6 linked regions of the Homo sapiens genome follow. The protein of the gene in region 1 purifies or fractionates together with the protein of each later gene. This does not show direct contact. Each region holds a gene or a part of one and is shown in the gene's direction. Other genes may lie near its edges. The genes, in order: MTMR1, NEMF, NADK, SLC4A1AP, NPEPPS and BPNT1.

Region 1 (4,664 bases):
TGCCAGATGGTTTTTATTAGATGTTCTGGTAAAGAATTGATGAGTAAGGATCCAAACCACTGACTACAGTTAGATTCGAAGCATGTGGTGTGACTACATCTGTCTGATCCAGTGTTCCCGGGTCTGGGAACTCTTCAGTGCATTGTCAGCTTCAAATTATTCCACTAAGATCTTATTTTCATGACGTTTGTTTCATGACGTTGTCTCTACCTTATATTTGGTATAATGTTTTACGTTACTTATTTTAGACATTCGTAAGAGGTATCTGTGTTTCTAAAGGACTTTTGAGTATATTCTCAAAAATAACAGAGCTCATTATTTATAGAAAATAGGACAAGAAATATATAGAAATGTGATTCTAGCGTATAATTTTCATGTTTTAGTATGGTTTGGATATTCTTATGCTTCTTTAGATTTTTAGAAATGTCTAGGAAATGGGTTTTACCGAATAAATATATATATTGACTTTTAAGTTACAATAAACAATAAATTATAAACGGATTTTAGTTGCAAATAAGAAATGGATGTACTTCATGCTTAGTACTTTTTCAAAGTGTAAAGTCATGCATTTCACCCTCTTCTTCTTTCTCCAACACCTTACAGGGCTTGCCAAATGAGAGTTGGAAAATATCCAAAATAAACAGTAATTATGAGTTCTGTGACACCTACCCTGCCATCATTGTTGTGCCAACTAGTGTAAAAGATGATGACCTTTCAAAAGTGGCAGCTTTTCGAGCAAAAGGCAGAGTCCCTGTAAGTAATAAACATTGTCATTTATATAGGAATATATATTGCGTTAGATCTAATATGGAGAGATTTAAGACAAAAAAGAAACTAGTGAACAAAAATGGAAAGCAGAAAAATAAGCTTATAAACCTGAACATACCTTTGATTCTCAACAAATACCTAATTATATAAACAATCTGTTTGCTATGACTCCCTCTTTTACGATTTCCTATAACTAAGTATAAGGGGAACTTCAGTCATACCCTCAAAAAGTAGTAGAGAATGACAAAGGAGTAGCAACAACAAGTTATCATGCTATTGTATTACCAGTTGGCATTGCTGGTTTCACTGAATCATCCTAGAGAAAATGCTTCTTTCTTAGATACTGAGCATGATGCCATAGCTGCGTGGGAGGGACATCATTACAGAAGTAGTAGCAGACAGCTGGGAGTAATGGTTTGAGCCCAGAGTTTGCATCTGTTGTAATCCTGAGTCACTTGGCCACTGGAGGAAAATGAGAGGTGGGGTGGCAGAGTGTCAGATTTTATAAGAGACTGTATATTCACTTTGTCCTTACCCTGCCACGTATATTATTGTTGAGATACAAAGATGTTTTTAAAATTAGGAGACAAGGTAAAATTAGTCAATCAAATTGGAATGGGGCTAGATTTTAGTAATAGTTTGATTTAGGATTTGTTTTTCTTAGAATCATAGAATATTGGGGATGGAAGGGGATTTTTAGAGCTCATGTAGTCAGAATTGTTTCATCCTGACCAAAACATTGAGTCTGATGGCCACTACAATGCTGTGATTGGCCTGCCCACTCTCACTTTTGAAGAAAATATGTATAAGAGACCGTGCTTGAGAAGGGAACTTGTTTTTCCTACCAGGTAATTAGAGCATACATTCTTTAGGAACTGTACTAATATTTATTGCTTAAAAACACTAGGTGTTGTCATGGATTCATCCGGAAAGTCAAGCAACGATTACCCGTTGCAGCCAGCCACTTGTGGGTCCCAATGATAAGCGCTGCAAAGAGGATGAAAAATACTTGCAAACAATAATGGATGCTAACGCACAGTCACACAAGCTTATCATCTTTGATGCTCGACAAAACAGTGTCGCTGATACCAACAAGGTATATTCTTAATAGCACTGCAGAAACACTGGATATTTTCATGTCCTGTCTGTAAATCATTATGCAGTTGGAATAACTCATTGATTTCCTCACCACCTGAAGTTAGAATCATTTGGAGTCCCATAGCTATTCCTCCCTGGTGTATGCTCCTTGGGCTGTGTTTGGTGTCTCACATGGGTTGGGATCTTGTCTGTTTCATTGCTTCTCTACAATATCCTGTCTGCTAAATCAATTAAGTAAAGACCTAGAAAGACAATTATCATCTAAAGGATTTAGCATTTTAATGAAATGATCGTGAGGTCCTTGGAAGTCCGTTTAAGGAATATAGTGGTTAGTTGATTAATTCATGTCTGGTCTGAATTTCTTTTAGAATGGAATCAGCCATGTGAAATGTGTAAATGTACAAAGTTTCCATAAATCTCATGGAGCACCTGTGTAGTGTACCTCGGGTGGCAGTGAGACATGGTTAAAAACACCTCCGTTCCCATGACTTTCATGATATCACACCCTGAGTTTCTCTCGCTCTTCAGCCTGGCCTTCTCCATCTCCTTCACTGATTTCTCTTCCCAGTCTTCAAATGGCATTGCTCCTCGAACTTGGTCTGGGGTCCTCTTTGCTCTACACAGACTCCTGGGGCCATCTCTGATGACACGGCTTTAAACACTGTCTGTATGCTGAGTTCAACTTGAGCTTGACACTGCAGTTTCTCTCCTGTCCTGATCCCTCCTAAGGTTGAGACTGGATTTCTATCCCATTGTATGGTTGACATCTCTGCTTGGCTGTTTCCCAGACCACAAACCCTCCGTATATTCCAACTGGCCTGAGAGGCACGATGGCAAGTTGGTGAGACCCCTTGGCTTTGGAATCAGTTACACCTGGGTTTTCCTCCAGGTTCTGCCACTTGGTGCTCTAGAATCCTGAGCCGGTTACTTAACCTCTCTCTGTGCCTCAGGTTCCTCTTCTGTAAAACAGGAGATAATATCAGTGTCTCATGTCATGGGTTGTGTGAGGATTAAAATTCAGTGAGAAGAATGCATGTAAATGACTTAGCACAGTGGTGAGTGCATCCTCAGGGCACAGTACATGATGCTGATAAGCTCGCCACCCCTGTGGTCAAGGGTGTTGCCCAGGTGTCTGACTTGAGGGTGAATAGTGGTGTCTGTTACTGAGATGGGGAAGACTGGGAGAGGAACAGGGCAGGGAGGAAGATGGGGAAGTATTAGTTTTCTGAGGCTGTCATACAAATTACTACCAATTTGTTGGCTTACAGCACCAGAAATGTATTGATCACAATTCTGGAGGCCAATTCTGCTCCCTCTAAAGGTTCAAGGGGAGAATCTGTTCCTTGCCTCTTCCAGCATGGGGTGGCTGCCCCAGCCTTCCTGGGCTTGCAGCCACATCACTCCAATCTCTTCTTCCGTCATCACATGACCCTCTCTTGCTCTGGGTTTCTGCGTCTCCTCCTTTCTCTTCTAATGACACTTGTGATGACATTTAGGTTCCACCTGAAATAATCCTGGATCCTTAAACACATCTGCAAAGACCCTCTTTTCAATTAATCTTGGAATCCTTAAACACATCTGCAAATCTCAGGATCCTTAAACATCTGCAAAGACCTTCTCTTCAAATAAGGTCACATTCACCATTGCCAGGGATTCGATGTGGATGTCTTTGGCGGGGCCACTTTTCAGCCTACCATAGGGAGGCATCCCTCAGTGAGGCCCCCTTGCTCCCCACATCTGGATCATTAGCTGTGTCAGTCTTTCTACATCTCTGCCTCCCACCTGTCACCACCATATCCCAAGGAATTACAAAATGTGAGAAAAGCCATATTGGTGGAGGCCATCTTCAGACTAGCCAACAGGGTGAGGGCAGTTCATTGTGTTTTATCCCATGCAGGAGAGATAGAGACAGGACACTAAATTGTATATCTAGAATAATTTTAACTATGGCAGTATATGTGTCTAGGAAACAGTATTTTCTAGGTCTCCACTGGTTCTTTATATATAAGATTATGTCATATGCAAGTCGAGATAATGTGACTTCTTCCTTTACAATCTGGCTGCCTTTCATATCTTCTTCTTGCATTGGTATTGCATTGGTTGATTTTTATATGTTGAACCACTGTCGTGGATTGAAAAATGTCTCCCAAAAGTTTGTCCAACTGGAACCTCAGAATGTGACCTTATTTAGAAATAGGATCTTTGCAGATGTATTAATTATGATGAAGCCATCTTGGAGTAGGGTTGGCCCTAAATCCAGTGCCTAGTGTCCGTATAAGAAAGCCATGTAGAGACACAGGCACACACAGAAGGAAGATGGCGATGTGGCAATAGAGGCAGAGATTTAAATGATGCAGCTAGAAGCTGAGGAGTGCCAAGGACTTCCAGCAACCACCAGAAGCTAAGAGAGAGACATGGAACAGATTCTTCCCTATACCCTCCTAAAGGAACCAACTCTGCCAGCACCCTGATCTCGGACTTTCAGCCTCCAGAACTGTGAGAGAATAAATTTTATGTTGTTTTAAGTCCCCCAGTTTGTGATAGCACCCTTAGGAAGCTAATAAAACCTCCTTACATTCCTGGGATAAATCCCACCCGTTCATGGTATGTGATCAGTCCCCTTCATATACTCTTGGATTGGGTTTGCTAGTATTTTGTTGAGGATATTTGCATGTATTTTCATAAGGGATGTTAATCTGTGGTTTTCTCTTCTTGTGATGTCTTTGTCTAGCTTTGGTATCAGGATACAGCTAGCCTCATGGAATGAACTAGGAAGTATGCCCTCCTCTTCTAGTTTT
Region 2 (4,664 bases), on another chromosome or scaffold:
GTGCCACTGCATTCCAGTCTGGGCGACAGAGCGAGACTCTCTCTCAAAATAAAGTAAATAAATAAAGGTTGTGGCTTATGAGTGAGGTCATTAGGACCACAACAAGGAATTTAGCAGTGGTATAAAGCAACAAAGCAAATTTTGCTATAGGTCCATCATTCTCTACTTAAAAATTGAAAATAAAAGCCTGGCTCAGTAGCTTACGCTTGTAATCCCAGCACTTTGGGAGGCCAAGGCAGGAGGATTGCTTGTGCCCAGGAGTTTGAGATTAGCCTGGGCAACATAGTGAGACCCTGTCTCTACAAATAATGAAAAAATTAGCTGGGGATAGTGGCATGTGCCTGTGGTCCCAATCCTCAGGAGGCTGATGCAGGAGGATCACCTGAGCCAGGGAAGTCGAGGCTGCAGCGAGCCATGATCACACCACTGGGCTCCAGTTTGGGTGACAGAGTGAGACCCTGTCTTAAAAAAATGCAAATAAAACACTGTTTCAGAGTTAGTGTTTATAATAAAATGTTTTCCCTCTGATTATCATCTGCAATCTATTACTTTATGACTATACTGTTATTCACAACGTTTTAAATATTCCTGATGATAATGAAAAGAAGCTTATTTATAAACCAATACCAAATGGTTAGGAATTCACTTTTACTAAATGAATGCCTTTTTCTTTCTCTTGCTAGTGCCGAAAACATTTGAAGAGTCGGAGATTAGTCAGTGCAAAACAGCTTGGTGTGGATAGAATTGTAGATTTTCAATTTGGAAGTGATGAAGCTGCTTACCATTTAATCATTGAGCTCTATGATAGGGTAAGTTAAATTTGTGGGATATGGTGAAGGAAAATTTCTTATTAATCATTTTGTAATAGTGCTATATAACATGAGTGGGGGAACATTTTTTTTCTGTGTCAAAGGTTGTTACTACCCTAGGAAATGGGTGCCACACAAATAAAATAAAATTTTCCAGTAATAACCTTCATTTTATCTGTAGGTCTGAGTTTAGGCAGACTTTAGCCATTTAGAATAGCCTTATGAATGTAGGAGATGAAGATCTGAGAAGTAAATTATTTGGTACTTGACATTTCAGGACTAATATGCAACCAGAAAATAGTCAAATACGGTCATGCACTGATGCGCTGTATGTATAGTGATGTTTCAGTCAACAACAGACTGCATATAAACGTTGGTCCTGTAACATTGTAATGGATCTAATAAATTCTTACTGCTTAGTGACATCTTGATCCTGACTCTGTGTAGGCCTAGGCTGGTGTGTGAGTTTGTGTGTTAGTTTTTAACAAAAACATTAAAAGTAAAAACAAAACAATTTAAAATGGAAAAAAAGCTTAGAGAATATGGATCTAAAGAAAGAAAGTATTGTACAGCTGTACGATATGTGTTTTAAGCTAAGTGTTATTACAAGAGTCAAAAAGCTAAAAAGTTTAAAGTTTATAAAGTAAAAAAGTTCCAGGAAGCAAAGGTTAATTTATTATTGAAGAAAGAAAAACATCTTAAAAATAAATTTGGCTGAGCGCAATGACTCAGGCCGGGCACAGTGGCTCACACCTGTAATCCTAGCATTTTGGGAGGCCGAGGAGGGCGGATCACCTGGGGTCAGATCACCTGGGGTCAGGAGTTCAAGACCAGCCTGGCCAACATGGCAAAACCCCGTCTCTATTAAAAAATACAAAAATTAGCTGGGCGTGGTGGCGGGCACCTATAATCCCAGCTACTCGGGAGGCTGAGGCAGGAGAATCACTTGAACCTGGGAGGCAGAGGTTCCAGTGAGCTCAGATTGTGTCACTGTGCTCCAGCCTGGGCAACGGAGCAAGACTTTGTCTCAAAAATAAACTAACTAACTAACTAACTAACTAACTTAATCTGGGCCAGGTGTGGTGGCTCACACCTGTAATCCCAGCACTTTGGGAGGCCAAGGCGAGTGGATCACCTGAGGTCAGGAGTTTGAGACCAGCCTGCCCAATGTGGCAAAACTGCATCTCTACTAAAAATACAAAAATTAGCCTGGTGTGGTGGTGCGTGCCTGTAGTCCCAGCTACTCGGGAGGCTGAGGCAGGAGAATCACTTGAACCTGGGAGGCAGTGGTTGCAGTGAGCTGAGATCATGCCATTGTACTCCAGCTCAGGTGACAGAGTGAGATTCAGTCTCAAAAAGGAAAAAAAAAATATATGTGTGTGTGTGTGTGTGTGTGTGTGTGCGCGCGCGTGCGCGTGCGTGTGTATGTATATAAATAAATAAATACATAAATTTAATCTGGTCTGAGGTAAGCATAATTTTTTTAAAAATTAAAAAATAAAAAACAAATTTAGTGTAGCCCAAGTGTGCAGTATTTATCAAGTCTACAGTAGTATGCAGTAATGTCCCAGGCCTTCACATTTACTCACTGTCACTCACCCAGAGCAGTTTTCAGTCCTGCATGCTCCATTCATGGTAAGTGCCCTATACAGGTGTTCCATTTTTAATCTTTTATACCAGGGATCTTCAACCCCTGTGCCGCAGACTGGAACTGGTCTGTGGAACCAGGCCACACGGCAGGAGGTGAGCAGTATGCGAGTGAGCATTACTCACCTGAGCTCTGCCTCCTGTCAGATCAGTGGTGGCATTAGATTCTTATAGGAGCGTGAACCCTATTGTGAACTGTGCATGCAAGGGATCTAGGTTGCATGCTTCTTGCGAGAATCTAATGCCTGATGATCTGAGGTGGAACAGTTTCATCCGGAAACCATACCCCTGCACCCCCCATCCATGGAAAAATTGTCTTCCATGAAACTGGTCCCTGGTGCCAAAGGCTGGGGACTGCGGTTTTTTTTTTGTTTTGTTTTGGTTTTTTTTTTTTGATACAGAGTCTCACTTTGTTGCCCAGGCTGCAGTGCAAGGGTGTGATCTCAGCTCACTGCAACCTCTGCCTCCCGGGTTCAAGCAATCCTAGTGCCTCAGCCTCCTGAGTAGCTGGTATTACTGGCATGTACTACCATGCCCAGCTAATTTTTGTATTTTTAGTAGAGATGGGGTTTCACCATATTGGCCAGACTGTTCTCAAACTCCTGACCTCAGGTGATCTGCTCGCCTTGGCCTCCCAAAATGCTGGGATCACAGGCATGAGCCACTGCGCCCGGCCTGGAACTGTTGTTGTAATACCATATTTTTACTGTACTTTTTCTATATTTAGATGTACTTAGATACACAAATACTTGCTATTGTATTACAGTTGACTACAGTATTCAGTAACATGCTATACAGATTCCTAGCCTAGGAGCAATAGGTTATATCATATCTTTGGTGGATGTATTAGGCTACACCGTCTAGGTTTGTGTAAGTATACTCTATTACGTTCACACGACATCGAAGTTGCCTAAATGCATTTCTTAGAATGTATCCCCATTGTTAAGCAATGCATGACATTGGGTCTGCCTTCTTTTATGCAATATTTTTTATTTTTTTGAGATAGAGTCTTGCTCTGTTGGCCAGGCTGGAATTCAGTGGCATGATCAGGGCTTACTGCAAACTCGGCCTCCTGGGCTCAAGTGACCCTCTTGCCTTAGCCTTTCATGTAGCTGGTACCACAGATGTGCACCACCATGCCTGGCCAATTTTTTTATTTTTTGTAGAGACAGACTCTCACTTCGTTGCCCAGGCTGACCTTGGACCCCTGGCTCAAGCAATCTTCCCATCTCAACCTCCTAAGGTGTTGGGATTACGGGGGTGAGCCACCACGCCTGGCTCTTTTATTCAATATATAATGTCTGTGAGATTCATTGATGTTGAAAATTCCCTTAGCTCCACATCCTTAGCAACATTTGATATGATCTCTTAGAGCTCTTTATCTAATCTGATTATGAGCCCTTTGCTGATTATTTGTGTAGTAAATGTCCTTTTCTACTCTAACCTGAGTTTTTACTCTTTCTTTTTTTTTATTTTTTAATTTTTTTTGAGAATAAGTCTCACCCTGTCGCCAGGCTGGAGTGCAGTGGTGTGATCTTGGCTCACTGCAACCTCCGCCTCCCGGGTTCAAGCGATTCTCCTGCCTTAGCCTCCCGAGTAGCTGGGATTACAGGCACCTGCCACCACGCCCAGCTAGTTTTTGTACTCTTAGTAAAACAGGGATTCACCATGTTGGCCAGTCTGGTCTTGAACTCCTGACCTCAGATAATCTGCCCACCTTGGCCTCCCAAAGTGCTGGGATTACAGGCGTGAGCCACTGCGCCTGGCCTGCTACTAGTTTTTCAGCACTTAGTAATTTCTGGTTATCTATCTCTCTAACCAACGTAAATGGTGGCTACATTTACTGAAGCCACTTACATTGCAACCTGTCATTTCAGATGAATTTGGGATTACTCCCACCGTATTCTGTGACTATCTTGTAAACAGTTGTAAGGCATTTTTGACTGTTTTCATGGATGCTTCTTTGTATTTTAATTATACCTGTAGAGTAACTCTGATCTTCACTGTCAGTAATAAATTTGGAAGGTGGTATTCTTTCGTTAGCTTTATTTTCATTATGTTCCCCCTTCTTTTTTATTGAAAAGGTTATCTAGCAATATTAAATTTTAAAAAGTCTTTAATTCTAAATCTTTAAGAAGTAATTTCATTTTAGCCTACATATGCCTTCCATTTTCTAGGATATAACTTTTTTGTGTGTCTTTGCTATGT
Region 3 (4,664 bases), on another chromosome or scaffold:
TCAGGGCTGGAATGGGTGTAGGCCAGGCCACTGGGTCAGTGGTGACTGTTGGCGGGGAGAGCAGGGGGAGCCGTGTGCAGGGCGGGGGCTTTGCTGGCTGACCAGGCCGGAGGACCGTGAGCCACCTGCACGCCCTTGGGCCGGAGCCAAGCAGAGTGACGCAGCGGGCTAGGAGGCAGGGAACGCCCTTCCACCTGACTGTGGCCTGAGGGTGCCTTCCCTGGGGCCCAGCCGGTTCCGCGGGCCAGAGCGGTGGCTGGCGCAGTGCTGGGGCGAGGCTGGAGGCTGGGTACTTGGCCAGGTCTGAGGCCACGGGAACAGAGGGCTTGGTCCCACCCGGCTCAGTTAGGAGCAGGGAGCTGAAGTGTGGCCTCTTTGCTGCTGAACTGAGGACTTTTTTTCAGAAGGGATTAGGCAGGAGGACCATGTGACCAATGAGGAAACTGTTTTGTTTTGTTTGATTTTTATAAGTGTAGGAAGCTCTTTTGACTTAGTTGCTTTTACAACAACTTTACCAAGTCTCATCACAATTGTGTTTTGCTTTGAGTTTTGAGTATGAAGAGCTTAGGCTTCTAGTGTGGGCGCACAGTCAGGACCATACCGATGGGGCGGCCGCGTGTTCGCCAAGCGTGGCCTGGATGCTGTGGACACACTGGCCGGCTCCCAGCAGGCAGGGGCTACCTCGCGAGCCACATGTGTGACCCGGCAGGTGCTGAGCTCATAGGGGATGGCATGAGTGACCCCACGCCTCCCAGTAATGCCTGCACAGGGTGAGTGCTGACCAGCTTCCGAAGGTCACAAGCGATGGGCTAAGGTCTGTGGCCCTGTGGCTGCCATCGGCGTCTGTGTTGTGGTTCTGGGGGTGTTAGTGGGACGGTCACACTCCTGGGGAAGTCACTGCTGGGAAGAGGCATGGCAGGCAGCAGCTTTCTCGATTGGGCAACTTGGAACTAGCTGGCTGGCGCGGTGGTATAAGAACTTGTCCTTTGGGGCTGAGGATAGGCGGTGAGCGCTGACGACGGTGGCCAGCCCCGCTGCGCCCTCCCTTGGCTTCTGGGAACAGGAGCAGGCTCCGTGGTGTGTGTTCCCGGTTCTGGGCTGGGATGTTTTCTGTGACTAACGTGGTAATGGGAATCCCACCGGGGTGGGCCCTGCCTGTGGAGAAACACCGGGCACAGTGGTCGGGGTCAGAGCCAGCAAAGCGCGGGTGGCTGTGTCAGGGCTGCCACGGACTTTTAAACCTGTGATTTTTACTGTGAGAGTGAGTGAGGTTAAAGTCCGTTCATGCAGGGAGGTAGTGAGCTGTGTGCAGGGGGGGAAGCGGGTCCTTGAGGGGTCCTGGGCTCCCGTGGGGCCAGAAACTGTGTGCAGAGGATCCTAGGGACAGAGTCACCATGTCAACTGGTTTGGGTTTTCGTGGGGGCCTGAGGAGGGCATCAAGCAAAGAGTGGCCCAGCCATGGGCTTTCGTGGTCATTTCTGCCCCACCAGCGTCACTGAGGAGCCAGGCAGGCAAGTGGCCGGGGGCTGGGAAGGGCTGTGGTGCGTGCACTTGGGTCAGCGTGGTGCCCGGGTGGGGGTTGTGGGCCTGAGCCTGCGTGTGATGGGCCAAGCAGGTGAGAGGTGGTCACTCCGGACCCTACTGACCCCTGACCCTGTCTCTGTGGCGCGACCCTAGGCCCTGTGAGCCCGTGGCCACCGAGCACGTTTCCCTGGGAGGTGAAAACACCTTTTTAAAGATTTTTTTTTTTATTTTCTAAGTCATACACCTTTTCCGCAAGAGGGAGATCGCAGCTGGTGTGAACTCTTTTCTCCTCCCCTAAAGGCACATTCAGGACCCCGCGAGCCAGCGGCTGACGTGGAACAAGTCCCCAAAGAGCGTCCTTGTCATCAAGAAGATGAGAGATGCCAGCCTACTGCAGCCGTTCAAGGAGCTCTGCACGCACCTCATGGAGGCACGCGGGGCAGGGGGGAAGGGGGCCTGGGGTGCACATGGAGTTGGGGGGGCCTCCATCCACATCACCGCCCCGTGAGACCATGGGAACCACCTCAAGTGCTGGGCAACGGCTGCTTGTCTGGAACTGGGGACTGAGTGGGGATCTGCCGGGTGTCTGGGTTTGTGTGTGCCGCCATGGCAAGCACCAGACTGGGTGACCAACAATGAGCTGGTGGGCTCGTGGCCCTGGAGGCCGGGAAGTCCGAGATCAAGGGGCCACATCTGACGTGGGCCTTCCTGCTGTGTCTTCTCTTCAGAAGAGCAGGCGTGGGGGTTGCGGCGCCCAGGAAAGCCACTCCTGAAATAACAGCCTTAGTCAATTCCTGAGAGGGAGCCCCCTCCGCCCAGTCATCTCTTAAAGGTCCTGCTTCCTCCTGGCGCGTTGGTGATGAAGTTTCAGCGTGAGCGTGGGGGGGCGGGCATGCAGGCCACGATGCCAGGTCTCTGACCACAGCGCCCGTGAGTCGGGAACCTCCCTGCAGGAGGGTGGGGTCTGCAGGTGGAATGAGCAGGTTGGCACTTTGCTTCCAGGAGAACATGATCGTGTATGTGGAAAAGAAAGTGCTAGAAGACCCTGCCATCGCCAGCGATGAAAGCTTTGGGGCAGTGAAGAAGAAATTCTGTACCTTTCGAGAAGGTGGGCTGTCAGCAGCTCTGTCCTTGGTTTCTCCAGCACAGTTCCCCGCCCCATTGGAAGCTTCTGGCACTGTTGCCCTTGTCATTGGTGTCTGCGCACTGCGCCACAGAGGGGCCACTGTGTGACAGCCTCTTCTTGGTTTTGCTTTGTGTTTCCTAGATTATGATGACATTTCCAATCAGATAGACTTCATCATCTGCCTGGGGGGAGACGGGACGCTGCTGTACGCTTCCTCGCTTTTCCAGGTGAAGCGCTGACATTTCCAGACCCACACCAGGTTCTAGTCTAGGTGCTGCGTAACGAGGGGCTCACAAGCATGGCTTCCATTGCTTTTCACCCCTTTATACGAGAGCAGTCACCTAGAGCGGCCAGCACTGAGGCCCATGGTGGCAGCCCGGTGGGGTGCGACGGTGGGGCCAGGGGCAGTGTGGACACAGTGCTACGGCTGGGGGTGGCCAGCGCCCGCCTGGGACAGCAGGGAGTGGCGCAGGGTGGTGGGTCCTGGGAAACGACCTCGCCTACTGGCCCATCCCCTCTGGGCCTCCCTTGAGCTCCTCTTCCTGGTTTCTCAGCAGCACAGCTCTCCCCTGGGGCTGTAGGGCCACGCTGTGTGGGGGACCCTGGCTCTGCCCTTGGCCCACTGCATGTTGGTGACACCGGAAATGCCCGCAGCCCGCCCTGCTTTTCTCCCCATCTCCCCATTAGCACCTGTGGGGCGCGAGGCTCCGACCCCAAGGCTGCCTCCCACCCGCCCTCGCCAGCTCCCCCAGCCCTCCGTGCCCAGGGGGCCGCTCAGCCCTGCCACCTTTGTTCCTCACCAGCTCCCCACACCAACCTTGGCCCTGGTGGCCCGGCCCACCCTGGCCTGCGACGTCCCCCTCCGCTTGTCCACATGGCCAGTCCCTCCTGCAGAGGGTCGGGGTGCTGTCCCCACAGAGCTGGGTCCCTCCTGAGGTGCTGCTGGAAAGCTGGGTGGTGCGGGGGTGCACGGCGTGGGCACTGAGTGACCTCTCCGTCGGCTCACAGGGCAGCGTCCCTCCGGTCATGGCCTTCCACCTGGGCTCCCTGGGCTTCCTGACCCCATTCAGCTTTGAGAACTTTCAGTCCCAAGTTACTCAGGTGATAGAGGGTGAGTTGGAATGTTCTGGAGCCCACAGGAGCTCTGATCATGGCGCTGCTGTCTCGCTTGCTTGCGGGGGGTTTATTTTCATTTAATGATGCATGGAGCAACATTTAAAGGTTTCAAGATTCAGGGATTTCTAAATCTTGAGTGGTTCAAACCTTTTACTGACACTGAGAAGTTTCAGCAGATCACAGGTTGAAGCTGCCATGTGTGTTGGGCAGAAGTGAGCTGATTCTCACTCTCAGAAGGCACAGAAGTGTCGGCCGGGCGCGGTGGCTCACGCCTGTCATCCCAGCACTGTGGGAGGTCGAGGCGGGCGGATCACGAGGTCAAGAGATGAGACCATCCTGGCCAACACGGTGAAACCCCGTCTCTACTAAAAATACAAAAATTAGCTGGGCGTGGTGGTGCGCACCCGTAGTTCCAGCTACTTGGGAGGCTGAGGCAGGAGAATCACTTGAACCTGGGAGGCAGAGGTTGCAGTGAGCCAAGATCACACCACTGCATTCCAGCCTGGGTGACAGAGTGAGACTCCATCTCAAAATAAAAAGAAAAAGGCACAGAAGTGTGTCAACTTGGGAGAAGAAAGAGCCCTCTGACTCCCACTGGCCTCCCTGGGGTGGGGCCCCTGACCCCACTGACTTCCCTGATGCATGCCCTCTGACTCCTGCTGGACCTCAGGGAACGCAGCTGTTGTTCTCCGGAGTCGGCTGAAGGTCAGGGTGGTGAAGGAGCTCCGGGGGAAGAAGACGGCCGTGCACAATGGGCTGGGTGAGAACGGCTCGCAGGCTGCAGGCCTGGACATGGATGTCGGGAAGCAGGCCATGCAGTACCAGGTGAGTGGAGGCGCCTCGGCCTCGGTGAGGGGCCCAGGGTGGGGCGACTTCGGTCCCAGGGATGAGGACCTTC
Region 4 (4,664 bases), on another chromosome or scaffold:
GTAATCACTTTGGCTCTCAGCTTTCCCCACTGTTTAGGATTTATCTTTTTAAATTCTGCTAAGTTAGTTTCTACTCATCTGTCTACTTTCTAATTTTCTAAAATTTGGGTCTTTATGAATTTCTTTCTCTCTCTCTCTCTCTCTCTCTTTCTTTTCTTTCTTTCTTTCTTTTTCTTTTCCTCCTTTCCCTCCCTTCTCTTTTTTCCTTTCCTTTCCCTTACTTTCCCTCCCTCCCTCCCTCCCTCCCTCCCTCCCTCCCTCCCTCCCTTCCTTCCTTCCTTCCTTCTTTCCTTCCTCCCTTCCTTCCTTCTCTTTCCTCTATGCTGCCCAGATTGGAGTGCAGTGGTCTGATCACAGCTCACTGCAGCATCAACTTCCGGGGCTCAAGCGATCCTCCCGCCTCAGCCTCCTAAGTAGCTGGGACTACAGGTGCACACCACCATGCCCAGCTACTTTTTTTAGATTTATTTTTAGTAAAGGCAAGGTCTTGCTATGTTGCCCAGGCGTGGGTACATCTCTTTACTATGGTTTATTGGGATTTAGGGAAAGAGGGAAATTAGATATGTGTGTTTAATGTACCATCTTAACCTGCAAATTAGGCTTATATTAATAAGGACTATTTTCCTTGCAAATAATAGAAGTCCAATTCAAACTAGCTTAGGGGAAAGGTCATTGGCTGCAGAAGCTGGGAAGAATAGCTCAGGATGAAGGAACAGGAGTGAAGGAACAACTGCATGAACCAGAACCTCAAGTTCTGAAACCATAACTTAGTACTACCAAAGTAGACTCAGCATCACCAGGACATATACAAGTTGTGTGTGTGTGTGTGTGTGTGTGTGTGTGTGTGTGTGTGTCTGTGAGTGAGTCTGTCTCACGAGTGCATTTTTAAACTTTGCAGACAGATTCTTACCCTGTGCTGAAAAGCTGATTGCTTACAGCCCTGAACTTAACAGTCTCTCACTTTAATAACCTCATTGTAAAGAGAGCCTCTTTGCCCCATCTCTAAATATAAATATGAGGGAAAGAGTCTTACTGATTTGGCTTTGGTCCTATGACTATCCCTAAACCAGATAAAATGGGGGAGGAATTTTCTAGGGGAAAGAGGTACTTTTATCAGAACAAAGGGAGTAGAATGTTGTAGGGTGAACAAAAAAGTAATAGCTGTCATAGTTTCTTATTGATGGACTCTTTACATATTCACTGTTATAAATACTATTGCATTGATATTTATAGAATAAATTCCTAGAAGTGGAATTGCTGGATCAATGCATTTTTAATGGCAGATATTGTAGGCTTGACCATCAAAAAGGTTGTATCAATGTACATTCCCACCAATTATTAATCTTTTTATGTTTTTCTAGTCTAATAGATGAGAAGTATCTAATTTTTAAATTTGTACTTTATTTTTTTTTAAAGTAACATATTTAAAAATATTTATTGTATTTTTCTGTGAACTGCTTTCATTATCCTTTTTCAAATTTTCTTTTGGGTTATTGTCCTTTTTCTCATTTTTCATTTTCCTTTTTTCCTCATTGATTTTTTTTTTTTTTTGAGATAGAGTTTCACTCTTGTCACCCAGGCTGGAGTGCAGTGGCGCTTTCTCGGCTCACTGCAACCTCTATCTCCCAGGTTCAAGCAATTCTCCTGCCTTAGCCTCCTGAGTAGCTGGGATTACAGGCACCCGCCACTATGCCCATCTAATTTTTGTATTTTTAGTAGAGACGGGGTTTCACCATGTTGGTGAGGCTGGTCTTGACCTCAGGCGATCCATCCCCCTTCAGCCTCCCAAAGTGCTGGGATTACCATGCCTGGCCATCCTCATTGATTTTTAAAAGCCGTTTGCTCATTAAATAAATTAACTATTTGCTTTAATGAAAAATTATTTAATAAGAAATTGTGGGAAAATATACATAACAGAAAAGTGTACCATTTTAAGCATTTTAAGAGTATCACTCAGTGGCATTAAGTACATTCACAATATTATGGAACCATCAACACTGTTCATTTTGGAACTTTTTTATCATTCCATACTGAAATTGGTATCTGTTAAACACTAACTTCATTCTCCCTCCTTCCCAGCCTCTGGCAACCACCATTCTACTTTTCTGTCTCTATGAATTTGACTACTTTAGGTATCTCACATGATGCAGTAAGTGTCCTTTTATATATGGCTTATTTCACTTAGTATAATGTCTTCAAGGTTTAGCCCTTTGTTTTTATACGTAGTTTGGCAGCTTGTAGAACCTCTCTTTCAGTAGTTGATGGTGACATTTTAAGCTCCTTGCCTACTTGCCTTCTTTCTTTTTCTTTTCTTTTTTAAAAACTTATTTATTCATCATTTTATCTACCTCTAGTATCTCGGAAAAGGAAAGCCAAGAACTGGGAAGATGAAGACTTTTATGATAGTGATGATGACACATTTCTTGATAGGACTGGCCTGATTGAGAAGAAGCGTCTGAACAGAATGAAGAAGGCTGGCAAGATTGATGAGAAGCCAGAGACCTTTGAATCATTGGCAAGTTTTATTTATGGAAGTAGCTGTGGTATTTAATAGTTTAATTTTTAATAACATAATGTATTATTTAAATATGTTTTATGATAATTTTTAAAGTAGTAGCATTGAAATCTGATACTGAAGTATAACTTTTGTGGTCTGTTAATTTAATGGTAACAGACAACTAGTCTTATCCAAGTTGTTTGAAAAAAATATGGCTTGCTGCTAGATCCTTTCCTTCAGGATATTGATCCATTAATTAACATTCTTTGGATATGATATTACCTCTCTCAAAAGGAAAGGAAAAAGTTCCAAGTTAGGGCGTTCTGAGGTGAAATTGACTTTAGCCTTCTGGCAGTCAAGAGAAGTCAAAGGAATTTTGAAGAATGTAGTATGGTAATATGTAGTCTGAAACAGTATGTTCTTCAGGAAATTATCACAAGGTGACGTGTTAATGGGTAGGTAACAGACAATAATAGGCAGGTAATAGGCTACCTATTAGACTAGAAAAAAACATAAGATTAATAATGCAGAGCTTGACCAGAATATGGAGAAGTAGACTCTCAATTGGTGGGAATGTACAATACAACCTTTTAAGTGATCAATCCTACGACATCTGTCAGTATTAAAAATGCATTGATTCAGCAATTGCACTTCAAGGAATTTGTTACAGGTATTAATTTATAGTAGGATTCAGAGCTTAAAACATTACCCAACATCTATCCTTTTGATTTATGTGAAAACAAATGCCTTGAGCTCTTTCTTCTGAGTAAAATGAAGTCCGAGTTATTCATTCTGTTTAATTCTGTGTTTTTTAATTCAGAAATAAATTAAATTTGGATTTAACACATAAAAAGTGTTAACTCCTGGCTGGGCATGGTGGCTCATGCCTGTAATCCCAGCACATTGGGAGGCTGAGGCCGGTGGATCACCTGAGGTCAGGAGTTCGAGACCCACCTGACCAATGTGGTGAAACCCCACCTCTACTAAAAAAAAAAAAATACAAAAATTAGACAGGCGTGGTGGTGTGTGCCTGTAGTCCTAGCTACTCTGGAGGCTGAGACAGGAGAATTGCTTGAATGCAGGAAGCAGAGGTTGCAGTGAGTCGAGATCACGCCATTGCACTGCAGCCTGGGTGACAGTGCGAGACTCCATCTCAAAAAAAAAAAAAAAAAACTATTAACTCTGGCCAGGTGTGGTGGCTCACACCTGTAATCCTAGCACTTTGAGAGGCTGAGGCAGGCTGATCATGAGGTCAGGAGATTGAGACCATCCTGGCCAACATGGTGAAACCCTGTCTCTACTAAAAATACAAAAAGTAGCTGGGTGTGGTGGTGCACACCTGTAGTCCCAGCTACTTGGGAGGCTGAGGCAGGAGAATCGCTTGAACCCGGGAGTCGGAGGTGGCAGAGAGCCGAGATTGCACCACTGCACTCTACCCTGGCAACAGAATGAGGCTCTATCTCAAAACAAAAAAAAAAGTGTTAACTCCATAAGTAGCAGTTTAACTGGACTTTTGAATTAATCTTCTTAAAACTTCTAGTAAGAATAATTAAAACAGGAGGATGAAAAACAGTTTGAAAGAAGAAAAACTTTGTAACCCTGTTGATTTGGGTGTTACAGGTTGCAAAATTAAATGATGCTGAAAGGGAACTTTCTGAAATTTCTGAGAGATTGAAAGCCTCAAGCCAAGGTAAGTTTTTCATCAAATATTTATTAATATACCACATATAGTGCTCTATGCTAGGCACTGGGGCTACATTAGTTAATAAGAAATACCATACAGAATATGGAGCCTTTTAAAGGAGCAACATACCGTTTTAGAACTAGAAAGAACATTATAAATCATTTGGTTTAACCTCTTTATTTAATTGTTGAGGGGAATGAAGCACATTGAGACAAAATGACTTCCCAAGGTCTCATGGCTATAACCTGTTCCTTATTCCTATTACTAGTGATGTCCTCTGTCCGGTTTTATGTTAGTGACTTTTATATGGAAACTTTGGCTGAATTTTAAAATATTCAGGATCATCTTTCTAAACATGTGTTATTCTTTTCTTGGACAGTTCTATCAGAGTCTCCATCTCAGGATTCTTTAGATGCGTTCATGTCAGAAATGAAATCAGGCAGTACATTAGATGGTGTGTCCCGGAAGAAACTTCACCTGAGA
Region 5 (4,664 bases), on another chromosome or scaffold:
CGGGATAGAACAACAAGCAGTGACATGTTTCTCCTTACCTCTTTTCTACTTTTGTGGAAGACTGGTTTGTGCCATTGAGTGAGCATATGGTAATATACTAGATATTAGCAGGGACTTGTTAATTTGATGCAAGGAAATAAATAAAAAATAAATAAATTTTTTAAGTAGCATGAACTTTTCAAAACACTTTTTTTCCAGAAATTCTTTTCAGGCTAGATGGCAACACAAAGATGACACAATAGTGAATTCCAACAGGTTTTATTAAAGGATGATTGGACTTTTAAATTGTACTAATTGACATGTTTGGAAGGGTAAAAGAGGAATTAACATTGGTAAGAAGTAAAAAGCATATATTAATGTTTTTGAAATCCATGAATTAGAGCAATACGTTTAAATTGTGGCATTAGGTGGTATCTTGTGGGCATTTTAAAATATTGACAAAATTCTTTTTTTTTTTTGAGATGGAGTCTCGCTCTGTCGCCCAGGCTGGAGTGCAGTGGCACGATCTCGCCTCACTGCAAGCTCTGCCTTCCGGGTTCACGCCATTCTCCTGCTTCAGCCTCCCAAGTAGCTGGGACTACAGGTGCCCGCCACTGCACCCAGCTAATTTTTTGTATTTTTAGTAGAGACAGGGTTTTACTGTGGTCTCGACCTCCTGACCTCGTGATCTGCCCGCCTTGGCCTCCTAAAGAGCTGGGATTACAGGCGTGAGCCACTGTGCCCGGCGACAAAATTCTTATCTGTAGAAACCTATATTTATGACTGATATTGGATCAGTTTCCTAACAGTTGGAATCACATAACACAAAACATGCAAGTTGCTTAGTTGCTTTAGTTACAAAATTTTACGATAAGCCCAGAGTATTTGTGTAGGTTACATATTAGAAACTTAGTGGATTTATTTTATTTTTTATTTTTATTTTTTTGAGATGGAGTTTCGCTCTTTCTCCCAGGCTGGAGTGAAGTGGTGTGATCTCGACTCACTGCAGCCTCCACCCTGTGCCCCTGCCGGGTTCAAGCGAGTCTCCTTGCCTCAGCCTCCTGGGTAGCTGGGACTACAGGTGTGTGCCATCACGCCCAACTAATTTTTGTATTTTTAGTAGAGATGGGGTTTTGCCATGTTGGCCAGGCTGGTCTCGAACTCCTGACCTCAGGTGATCCCCTTCCCTTGGCCTCCCAAAGGGCTGGGATTATAGGCATGAGCCACCATGCCCGGCCAACTTAGTGGATTTTTAACCTGGCCTGGGGTGTGGACTGCTGCAGAAGGTGAAGAAATTAGTCCATGTTCAGTGATTTAAAAATCAATTGTCTTGGCCGGGCACGGTGGCTCACACCTGTAATCCCAGCACTCTGGGAGGCCGAGGCGGGCGGATCACGAGGTCAGGAGATCGAGACCATCCTGGCTAACACGGTGAAACCCCATCTCTACTAAAATACAAAAAATTAGCTGGGCGTGGTGGCGGGAGCCTGTAGTCCCAGCTGCTCAGGAGCCTGAGGCAGGAGAATGGCGTGAATCTGGGAGGCGGAGCTTGCAGTGAGCTGAGATTGCGCCACTGCACTCCAGCCTGGGCAACAGAGCAAGACTCTGTCTCAAAAAAAAAAAAAAAAAAAAAAAAAAAGGCTGGGCGCGGTGGCTCACGCCTGTAATCCCAGCACTTTGGGAGGCAGAGGCGGGCAGATCATGAGGTCAGGAGATCGAGACCATCCTGGCTAACCCAGTGAAACCCCGCCTCTACTAAAAATACAAAAAATTAGCCGGGCGTGGTGGCGGGTGCCTGTAGTCCCAGCTACTCGGGAGGCTGAGGCAGGAGAATGGTGTGAACCCGGGAGGCGGAGCTTGCAGTGAGCCGAGATCGCGCCACGCACTCCAGCCTGGGTGACAGAGCGAGGCTCCGTCTCAAAAAAAAAAAAAAAAAAAAATTAGTTGTCTTTCACATTAGTGTGGTCTAGCTGGTTTTGAAAATTTGTTATTATACAGAAGTTTCTCTAGGCCCAAAATTTATTTCATTCCCTGTCCCCTCCCTTTACACTGGATACTTGAGAGCAGTGGACTTTTGTAGATATTTCATATTTTGATCCTCTCCGTTTGTGGATAATTAATTAAAATGAATTATAAGTTTATGTGTGTGACTACTATTTATGATTATGAGTGTGTAGTGGTTGGTACAATAATTGGGTATTCTTTTTTTTTTTTTTTTTTTTTTGAGATGGAGTCTTGCTCTGCCACCCAGGCTGGAGTGCAGTGGCGGGATCTTGGCTCACTGCAGCCTCTGCCTCCCGGGTTCAAGCAATTCTCCTGCCTCAGCCTCCTGAGTAGCTGGGACTACAGGCACGCGCCGCCATGCCTGGCTGATTTTTTTGTATTTTTAGTGGAGATGGGGTTTCACCATATTGGCCAGGATGGTCTTGATCTCCTGACCTCATTCCATCTTCCTCGGCCTCCCAAAGTGTTGGGATTACAGGCGTGAGCCACCGTGCCCAGCTGGGCTTTCTCTTATGGAAATATTTTACCTGTGCCAGAGAAACTAAGTTTATCATTCAAGGCCAGAAATCAGGATATCCTAGCCAACCCCTGGCCTCTACTAACAAAATATACATGTTGGAGATAACTAAATTGGCACTAAGTGAATAGTTGCCAATATAGTAGTTTGTTTGGCAGATTAAAAATTTGGCACCTGAATGGTTATTGTCAATTCTGTGTTACAAATTTTTTGCCCAAATTCTGCATATTTTCTCTCTTTTTTTTTTTTTTTTTTTTTGAGATGGAGTTTCGCTCTTGTTGCACAGGCTGAAGTGCAGTGGCATGATCTCGGCTCACCGCAGCCTCTGCCCCCCCAGGTTCAAGCAATTCTCCTGCCTTAGCCTCCCAAATAGCTGGGATTACAGGCATGCGTCACCACGCCCAGCTAATTTTTTCTGTTTTTAGTAGAGACGGGGTTTCTCCATGTTGGTCAGGCTGGTCTCGAACTCCCGACCTCTGGTGATCCACCCACCTCAGCCTCCCAAAGTGCTGGGATTATGGGCGTGAGCCACCGAGCCACCGTGCCTGGCTTCTTTTTTTTTTTTTTTTTTTTTTTTGAGACGGAGTTTTGCTCTTGTTGCCCAGGCTGGAGTGCAATGGCGCGATCTCGGCTCACCGCAACCTCTGCCTCCCAGGCTCAAGTGTTTCTCTTGCCCCAGCCTCCAGAGTAGCTGGGATTACAGGCGCGCACCACCAAGCCCAGCTAATTTTTTGTATTTTTAGTAGAGAGATGGTTTCATCATGTTGGCTAGGCTGGTCTCAAACTCCTGACCTCAGGTGATCCACCCGCCTTGGCCTCTCAAAATGCTGGGATCACAGGCATGAGCCACCGTGCCTGGCCATTTTCTGCATATTTTCTATGTAATCATTTTGGCCAACACTGTGGCTCACTCCTGTAATCTTAGCACTTTGGGAGGTGGAGGTGGGAGAATTGCTTGAGCACAGGAGTTTGATACCAGTGTGGGCAACATAGCAAGACCCTGTCTCCAGGAAAAAAAAAAGGAAGAAATTTTCTTAAAAAAAATTCATATATATAAAATTAAATTCAAAATATTGGTGATAAGGAATTGAATTTGTTCAGATTTTCTGTTTTTTGAAATGTATCTGTGAGGAAAGAAGTATAACAGTTTTGTATGCTAAGCTTTGTCTAATTCATCTGGCAATGAATTCTGCAGTGAATTTTCCAGATAACTGAAGTTTACCCTTTGAGGCCCTTAGACATTTTTAAAAAAGTTTACTAGGCTGGGTGTGGTGGCTCACGCCTGTAATCCCAGCACTTTGGGAGGCTGAGGTGGGTGGATCATGAGGTCAGAAGTTTGAGACCAGCCTGGACAACATGGTGAAACCCCGTCTCTACAAAAAAATACAAAAATTAGCCGGGCGTGGTGGCACATGCCTGTAATCCCAGCTACTCGGGAAGCTGAGACAGGAGAATTGCTTGAACTCGGGAAGCGGAGGAGCGGAGGTTGCGGTGAGCTGAGATCACGCCATTGCACTCCAGCCGGGGTGACACAGCGAGACCCTGTCTTTAAAAAAAAAAAAAAAGTTGACTAATCTGAATGGAAATATTTCTAAAATACATTATCTTTTTATGCTTTGCAATTCCTCATAGTGTAGGTTTGTTTCATTGTTTTTTTTAAATACTGAACTTTATTTTGAACATCTCTCATTGACCCCAAACTATGTACTATAATTTATCAGTTTCATATCTGTTTTTTTTTTTCTTTTTTTTTTCTTTTTGAGACGGAGTTTCGCTCTGTTGCCCAGGCTGGAGTGCAGTGGCACAATCTCGGCTCACTGCAACCTCCGCCTCCCAGGTTCAGGCAGTTCTCCTGCTTCAGCCTCCCTAGTAGCTGGGATTACAGGCATGCACCACCACGCCTGGCTAATTTTGTATTTTTAGTAGAGACAGGGTTTCACCATGTTGGCCAGGCTGGTCTTGAACTCCTGACCTCAGGTGATCTGCCTGCCTCCGCCTGCCAAAGTGCTGGGATTACAAGTGTGAGCCACCGCGCCTAGCCATATCTGTTCTTTTTTTTTTTTTTTTTTTTTTTGAGACAGAGTCTCACTCTGTTGCCTAGGCCAGGCTGGAGTGTGCAGTGGTGCGATCTCGGCTCACTGCAACCTCCACTTCCCTAGTTCAA
Region 6 (5,211 bases), on another chromosome or scaffold:
ACGCCTGTAACCACAGCACTTTGGGAGGCTGAGGCAAGTGGATCACCTGAGTTCAGGAGTTCGAGACCAGCCTGGCCAACCTGGCCAACATGGTGAAATCCCGTCTCTACTAAAAATACAAAAAATTAGCCGGGAGTGGTGGCAGGCGCCTGTAATCCCAGCTACTCTGGAGGCTGAGGCAGAAGAATCGCTTGAACTCAGGAGGCACAGGTTGCAGTGAGAAATCAGGCCACTGCACACCAGCCTGGGCGACAGAGCGAGACTCCATCTCCAAAAAATAAAATAAAATGCACTTCATCTTTGACCCACGGTTTCACATCTGGGATCTATCACAGCTATAGTCTTCCAGGAGCACAAAGATATATTTACATAGAAACTCTCCTAACCAACCTCTACATAACTTGCTGAATTCAACTATGCCGTTTTCTCGTAAAACCTATGAGAGGATACAATGAACACTTGGGAGATGGCTACTCTTTAGGATGACTGCAGATTTCTATTCTCACTTGTTGAGCTTACCTTGCATTATGTTTGTCTTTATTTAAGCCATTTGTACTTGTCATGTAATTATACAATTTAATTATAAAAACCAAAGTATGGCCAGGTGCAGTGGCTCATGCCTGTAATCTCAGCACTTTGGGAGGCCGAGGCGGGCGGATCATGAGGTCAGGAGTTCGAGACCAGCCTGGCCAACATGGTGAAACCCCGTCTTTACTAAAAAAAAAAAAAATGCAAAAACTAGCTGGGCTGGGTGGTGTGCGCCTGTAGTCCCAGTTACTCAGGAGGCTGAAGCAGGAGAATAGCTTGAACCCTGGGAGGCAGAGGTTGCAGTGAGCCGAGATCAAGCCATTGCACTCCAGCCTGGGCGACAGAGTAAGACGCCGTCTCAAAAAATATATATATGTATATATGTGTGTGTGTGTGTGTGTGTATATATATATATATATATATATATATATATATATATATGGTTAAAGTAATATAATTTAAGTTATGTATATTTTTCCACTTCCCAAAAAGGGTCTACTTAACTCACAGAGTTATTGTGAAAATCAAATGAAGACGTAAAAGCCTTTTTAAGCTGGGCGCAGTGGCTCACACCTGTAATCCCAGCACTTTGGGAGGCCGAGGTGAGCAGATCACCTGGGGTCAGGAGTTCAAGACCAGCCTGGCCAATATGATGAAACCCCGTCTCTACTTAAAAAACAAACAAAATTAGCCCGGCGTGGTGGCGCGCCTGTAGTCCTAGCTACTTGGGAGGCTAAGGAGGAAGGATCGCTTGAACCCAGGAGGAGGAGGTTGTAGTGAACCTAGACTGCGCCACTGCACTCCAGCCTGGGCGACAGGATGAGACACTGCCCCCTTCCCCAACCACGCCCCCCAGTAAAAGATCCCATCTGTACACAAAAAATATTTTAATTAGCTGGGTGTGGTGGCGCGCACCTCCACCAGTAGTCCCAGCTACACGGAAGGCTGAGGCGGGAGGATGGCTTGAGCCTAGAAGTGGGAAGGCAGCAGTGAGCCGTAATCGACTCTGGGCGACAGAGCAAGCTATCTATCGCTTAAAAAAAAAAAAAAAAAAAAAAAAAAAAAGGTAAGCAAGCATCTTTGACACAATTCTGCATAAAGTTGCTGTGTTATTGCGTGGGGAGTGGGAGGTGGAGGTGTGTGTGGTGGACCTGCTGAAGCCTGTCCACGGACCGCTAGGGGTTCGAAGTTAAATAGCCGCAGAGTGGTATCACTAATACAAAGAACATTTTAAAACAGTGAACTCTACGAAGTGGGCTGGAAGACAGCTGAAACCAAAACCAATCTTTTTTTTGTTTCAACACACTGTTGCTGGCTTAATGTGTTCTTTCCTTCTTCTTTTTCTTTTTTTAGCCAATCTTTGAAAGTTGACACATCTTTCGCTTTTATTTAATGCAACAGGTGACTTGCACCTACGGAGAGCTTGGAGAAAACACGGACAAGTGGAATTTTCCCGCGGATCAGGAGTCTAAAGAGGCAGTGTGAAATCGCTGTTGTGCGCTTGCGCGCAGTTTCCCGCATGCTCAGTAGCTGAGGTAGGGATGCCATCCTTCTCAAAAGACTTATTGACAGTGCCAAAGCTCGGTACTGGACACAACGAGGGACCTGGGTCTACGATAACGCGCTTTTGCTCCTCCTGAAGTGTCTTTGGTCCAACGTTGTTCCAGGTTTGTCACCGTTTCTCTCCGGCCGGTCAGGGCAAGAGCCAGGTAGATAGGATTTATGTTAAAAAAATAAAACGAAAAAGGTTTATGTGAATCAGATTGCTTCTCCAGATATTCTAACTTCCGACTTGGACTCTTGAGTGTCGATATTTTAATTGTTTATCTGTGCTTTTATTTTCGTGATCCGGAAGGTTTTTATAGCCATATACTGTAGAAACAAGACAAACCTAGACATTGAGTTTGTTGATGCACCCAAATTTAGAAACTGCTTGGTACCTAAAATTAAATTTCTTTAAACAGCAAATATTCTTCCAACTGCCATTTCTACATATTTATAGGTTTGCGTGATTTATTTGGATTTCTCTGTAAATATAATTGTTGGTTCAAAAGATACGTACTTTATACTTTTATTAAGGTTCTCAAAACTCTCCTAAGAGGGTTCACCGCTTTGCCAACAATGCTCAGGAACATGTTCCCTCACACCCTTGCAAACTGGACAAAGGACAAACTCTTCTTCTTTCTTCTTTTTTCTTCTTCTTCTTCCTCCTCCTTCCTCCTCCTTCTTTTTTTTTTTTTTTTTTTTTTTTCGAGACGGAGTCTCGCTCTGTCGCCCAGGCTTGAGTGCAGTGGTGCAATCTCGGCTCACTGCAAGCTCCACCTCCCAGGTTCACGCCATTCTCCTGCCTCAGCCTCCCGAGTAGCTGGGACTACAGGCGCCCACCACCAAGCCTGGCTAATTTTTTTTGTATTTTTAGTAGAGACGGGGTTTCACCGTGTTAGTCAGGATGGTTTCGATCTCCTGACCTCGTGATCTGCCCGTCTCGGCCTCCCAAAGTGCTGGGATTACAGGCGTGAGCCACCGCGCCCAGCCTTTCTTTCTTTCTTTTTTTTTTTTTTTTAAGACAGGTTCTAGCTCTGTCCCCCAGGCTGGAGTACAGTGGTGCCATTATGTCTCACTGCAACCTTGACCTCCCAGGGTCTGGTGATTCTCCCACCTCAGCCTCCCGAGCAGCTGGGACTACAGGCATGTGCCACCACACCATCTAATTTTTGCATTTTTTTGTAGAGACGAGGTTTTGCCATGTTGCCCAGGCTGGTCTCGAACTCCTGAGCTCAAGCAATACACCAGCCTTGGCCTCCCAAAAAGTTCTAGGATTACGGGTGTGAGCCACTGCATTCAGCGACAATTTTTTTTTTTTTTTTTTTTTTTGAGTCGGAGTCTCTGTCGCCCAGGCTGGACTGCAGTGGCGCGATCTCGGCTCACCACAACCTCTGCCTCCTATGTTCAAGCAATTTTCCTGCCTCAGCCTCCTGAGTAATTTTTGTATTACTATGCCTGGTTAATTTTTGTATTTTTAGTAGAGATGGGGTTTCACCATGTTGGCCAGGCTAGTCTTGAACTCCTAACTTCAGGTGATTCACCTGCCTTGGCCTCCCAAAGTGCTGGGATTACAGGTGTGAGCCACCGTGCCCTGCCAAATTTTCTTTTCTATGCCAATCTTAAAAATAAACAATCATGGCCCGGCGCGGTGGCTCACGCCTGTAATCCTAGCACTTTGGGAGGCTTAGGCAGGCCATGAGGTCGGAAGTTCGAGACCAGCCTGACCAACATGGAGAAACCCTGTCTCTACTAAAAATACAAAATTAGCCAGGTGTGGAGATGCTTGCCTGTAATCCCAGCTACTCGGGAGGCTGAGGCAGGAGAATCGCTTAAACCCGGGAGGCAGAGGTTGCGGTGAGCCAAGATCTCGCCATTGCACTCCAGCCTGGGCAACAAGAGCAAAAACTCTGTCTCAAAAAATAAATAAATTAATTAATTAATTAAAAATAAAATAATCATTTCTCATTGTTTTAGTTTGCATTTCTTTCATAATTAGTGAAGCTGAGTATTTATGTATTTAATGGCCAGTGCTTTTCTCTTTGTAGGTGTTGCCCGTTCTTGTTTATTTGCTCATTTTTCTATTGGATTATTCAGCTTTTATATACTGATCTTTTACAAATTAAGTCATTTGTCTGGTATGTGATACAATATTTTTTTCTCATTTTGTCAAGTACCTGTTTATTTAGTTTATGGTATTTTGGCCATGTAGAAGTTTTAATTTTATTTTTATTTATTGATTGATTGATTTTGAGACGGAATCTCGCTCTGTCACCCAGGCTGGAGTGCAATGGTGCAAATGATCTCAGCTCACTGCAACTTCTACCTCCCAGGTTCAAGCAATTCTCCTGCCTCAGCCTCCTGAGTAGCTGGGATTACAGGCGCGTGCCACCAAGCCCGGCTAATTTTTGTATTTTTAGTAGAGACAGGGTTTCACCAAGTTGGTCAGGCTGGTCTTGAACTCCTGACCTCGTCATCCGCCCGACTTGGCCTCCCGAAGTGCTGGGATTACAGGCCACCGCGCCCAGCAACTCTTAGTTTTATAGAGTCAAATTTATCAATAGAATATTTTATGGATTCTTGGTTTTATGCTTAAAGGGCATTTACCAAGCTTATGAAGTTTATAATTTTTATTTCCATGCTTTTATGGTTTCTTTTTTTACTTTTATAAACCATGCATTGAAATGTATTTATATCAAAATGTATTTATATCAAAATATCAAAAGAATGCAAAAAGGACTCAACTTTTTTTTTTTTTTTTTTTGAGACGGAGTCTTGCTCTGTCGCCCAGGCTGGAGTGCAGTGGCACCATCTCGGCTCACTGCAACCTCCGCCTCCCAAGTTCGAGCAATTCTCCTGCCTCAGCCTCCCAAGAAGTTGGGGTTACAGGCGCCCGCCAATATGCCCGGCTCATTTTTTTTTTTTTTTAAGTTTAGCAACTCAGGCCGGGCGGAGTGGCTCACACCTGTAATCTCAGCACTTTGGGAGGCAGGCGGATCACAAGGTCAGGAGTTCAAGACTAGCCTGGCCAACATGGTGAAACCCCATCTCTATTAACAGTACAAAAATTAGCCTGGCATGGTGGCTTGTGCCTGTAGTCCCAGCTACTCAAGAGGCTGAGGCAGGAGAATCGGCTGAACC

What was found.
Region 2: the proteins of MTMR1 (region 1) and NEMF purify together in Homo sapiens (affinity purification with mass spectrometry, with the first as the bait; one large-scale study listed by BioGRID). This does not show direct contact.
Region 3: the proteins of MTMR1 (region 1) and NADK purify together in Homo sapiens (affinity purification with mass spectrometry; one large-scale study listed by BioGRID and IntAct). This does not show direct contact.
Region 4: the proteins of MTMR1 (region 1) and SLC4A1AP purify together in Homo sapiens (affinity purification with mass spectrometry, with the first as the bait; 2 studies listed by BioGRID). This does not show direct contact.
Region 5: the proteins of MTMR1 (region 1) and NPEPPS purify together in Homo sapiens (affinity purification with mass spectrometry, with the first as the bait; one large-scale study listed by BioGRID). This does not show direct contact.
Region 6: the proteins of MTMR1 (region 1) and BPNT1 purify together in Homo sapiens (affinity purification with mass spectrometry; one large-scale study listed by BioGRID and IntAct). This does not show direct contact.

The regions. Positions count from the first base shown.
Region 1 is NC_000023.11:150,730,867-150,735,530, forward strand, and holds part of MTMR1 (phosphatidylinositol-3-phosphate phosphatase MTMR1), read left to right. Parts: intron 1-603; coding exon 604-753; intron 754-1,675; coding exon 1,676-1,864; intron 1,865-4,597; coding exon of another isoform or gene 4,598-4,633; exon of another isoform or gene 4,634-4,664. UniProt on the Homo sapiens protein: Lipid phosphatase that specifically dephosphorylates the D-3 position of phosphatidylinositol 3-phosphate, generating phosphatidylinositol. Could also dephosphorylate phosphatidylinositol 3,5-bisphosphate to produce phosphatidylinositol 5-phosphate.
Region 2 is NC_000014.9:49,842,285-49,846,948, reverse strand, and holds part of NEMF (ribosome quality control complex subunit NEMF), read left to right. Parts: intron 1-683; coding exon 684-809; intron 810-4,664. UniProt on the Homo sapiens protein: Key component of the ribosome quality control complex (RQC), a ribosome-associated complex that mediates the extraction of incompletely synthesized nascent chains from stalled ribosomes as well as their ubiquitin-mediated proteasomal degradation.
Region 3 is NC_000001.11:1,754,471-1,759,134, reverse strand, and holds part of NADK (NAD kinase), read left to right. Parts: coding exon of another isoform or gene 1-34; intron 35-492; exon of another isoform or gene 493-603; coding exon of another isoform or gene 604-770; intron 771-1,000; exon of another isoform or gene 1,001-1,077; intron 1,078-1,824; coding exon 1,825-1,954; coding exon of another isoform or gene 1,955-2,028; intron 2,029-2,252; exon of another isoform or gene 2,253-2,356; intron 2,357-2,477; coding exon of another isoform or gene 2,478-2,526; coding exon 2,527-2,632; intron 2,633-2,791; coding exon 2,792-2,877; intron 2,878-3,658; coding exon 3,659-3,761; intron 3,762-4,436; coding exon 4,437-4,591; intron 4,592-4,664.
Region 4 is NC_000002.12:27,673,178-27,677,841, forward strand, and holds part of SLC4A1AP (kanadaptin), read left to right. Parts: intron 1-2,354; coding exon 2,355-2,515; intron 2,516-4,117; coding exon 4,118-4,187; intron 4,188-4,560; coding exon 4,561-4,664.
Region 5 is NC_000017.11:47,533,652-47,538,315, forward strand, and holds part of NPEPPS (puromycin-sensitive aminopeptidase), read left to right. Parts: intron 1-4,664. UniProt on the Homo sapiens protein: Aminopeptidase with broad substrate specificity for several peptides. Involved in proteolytic events essential for cell growth and viability. May act as regulator of neuropeptide activity.
Region 6 is NC_000001.11:220,086,670-220,091,880, reverse strand, and holds the start of BPNT1 (3'(2'),5'-bisphosphate nucleotidase 1), read left to right. Parts: upstream 1-2,092; 5' UTR 2,093-2,195; exon of another isoform or gene 2,196-2,237; intron 2,238-5,211. UniProt on the Homo sapiens protein: Phosphatase that converts 3'(2')-phosphoadenosine 5'-phosphate (PAP) to AMP and inositol 1,4-bisphosphate (Ins(1,4)P2) to inositol 4-phosphate. Is also able to hydrolyze adenosine 3'-phosphate 5'-phosphosulfate (PAPS) to adenosine 5'-phosphosulfate (APS).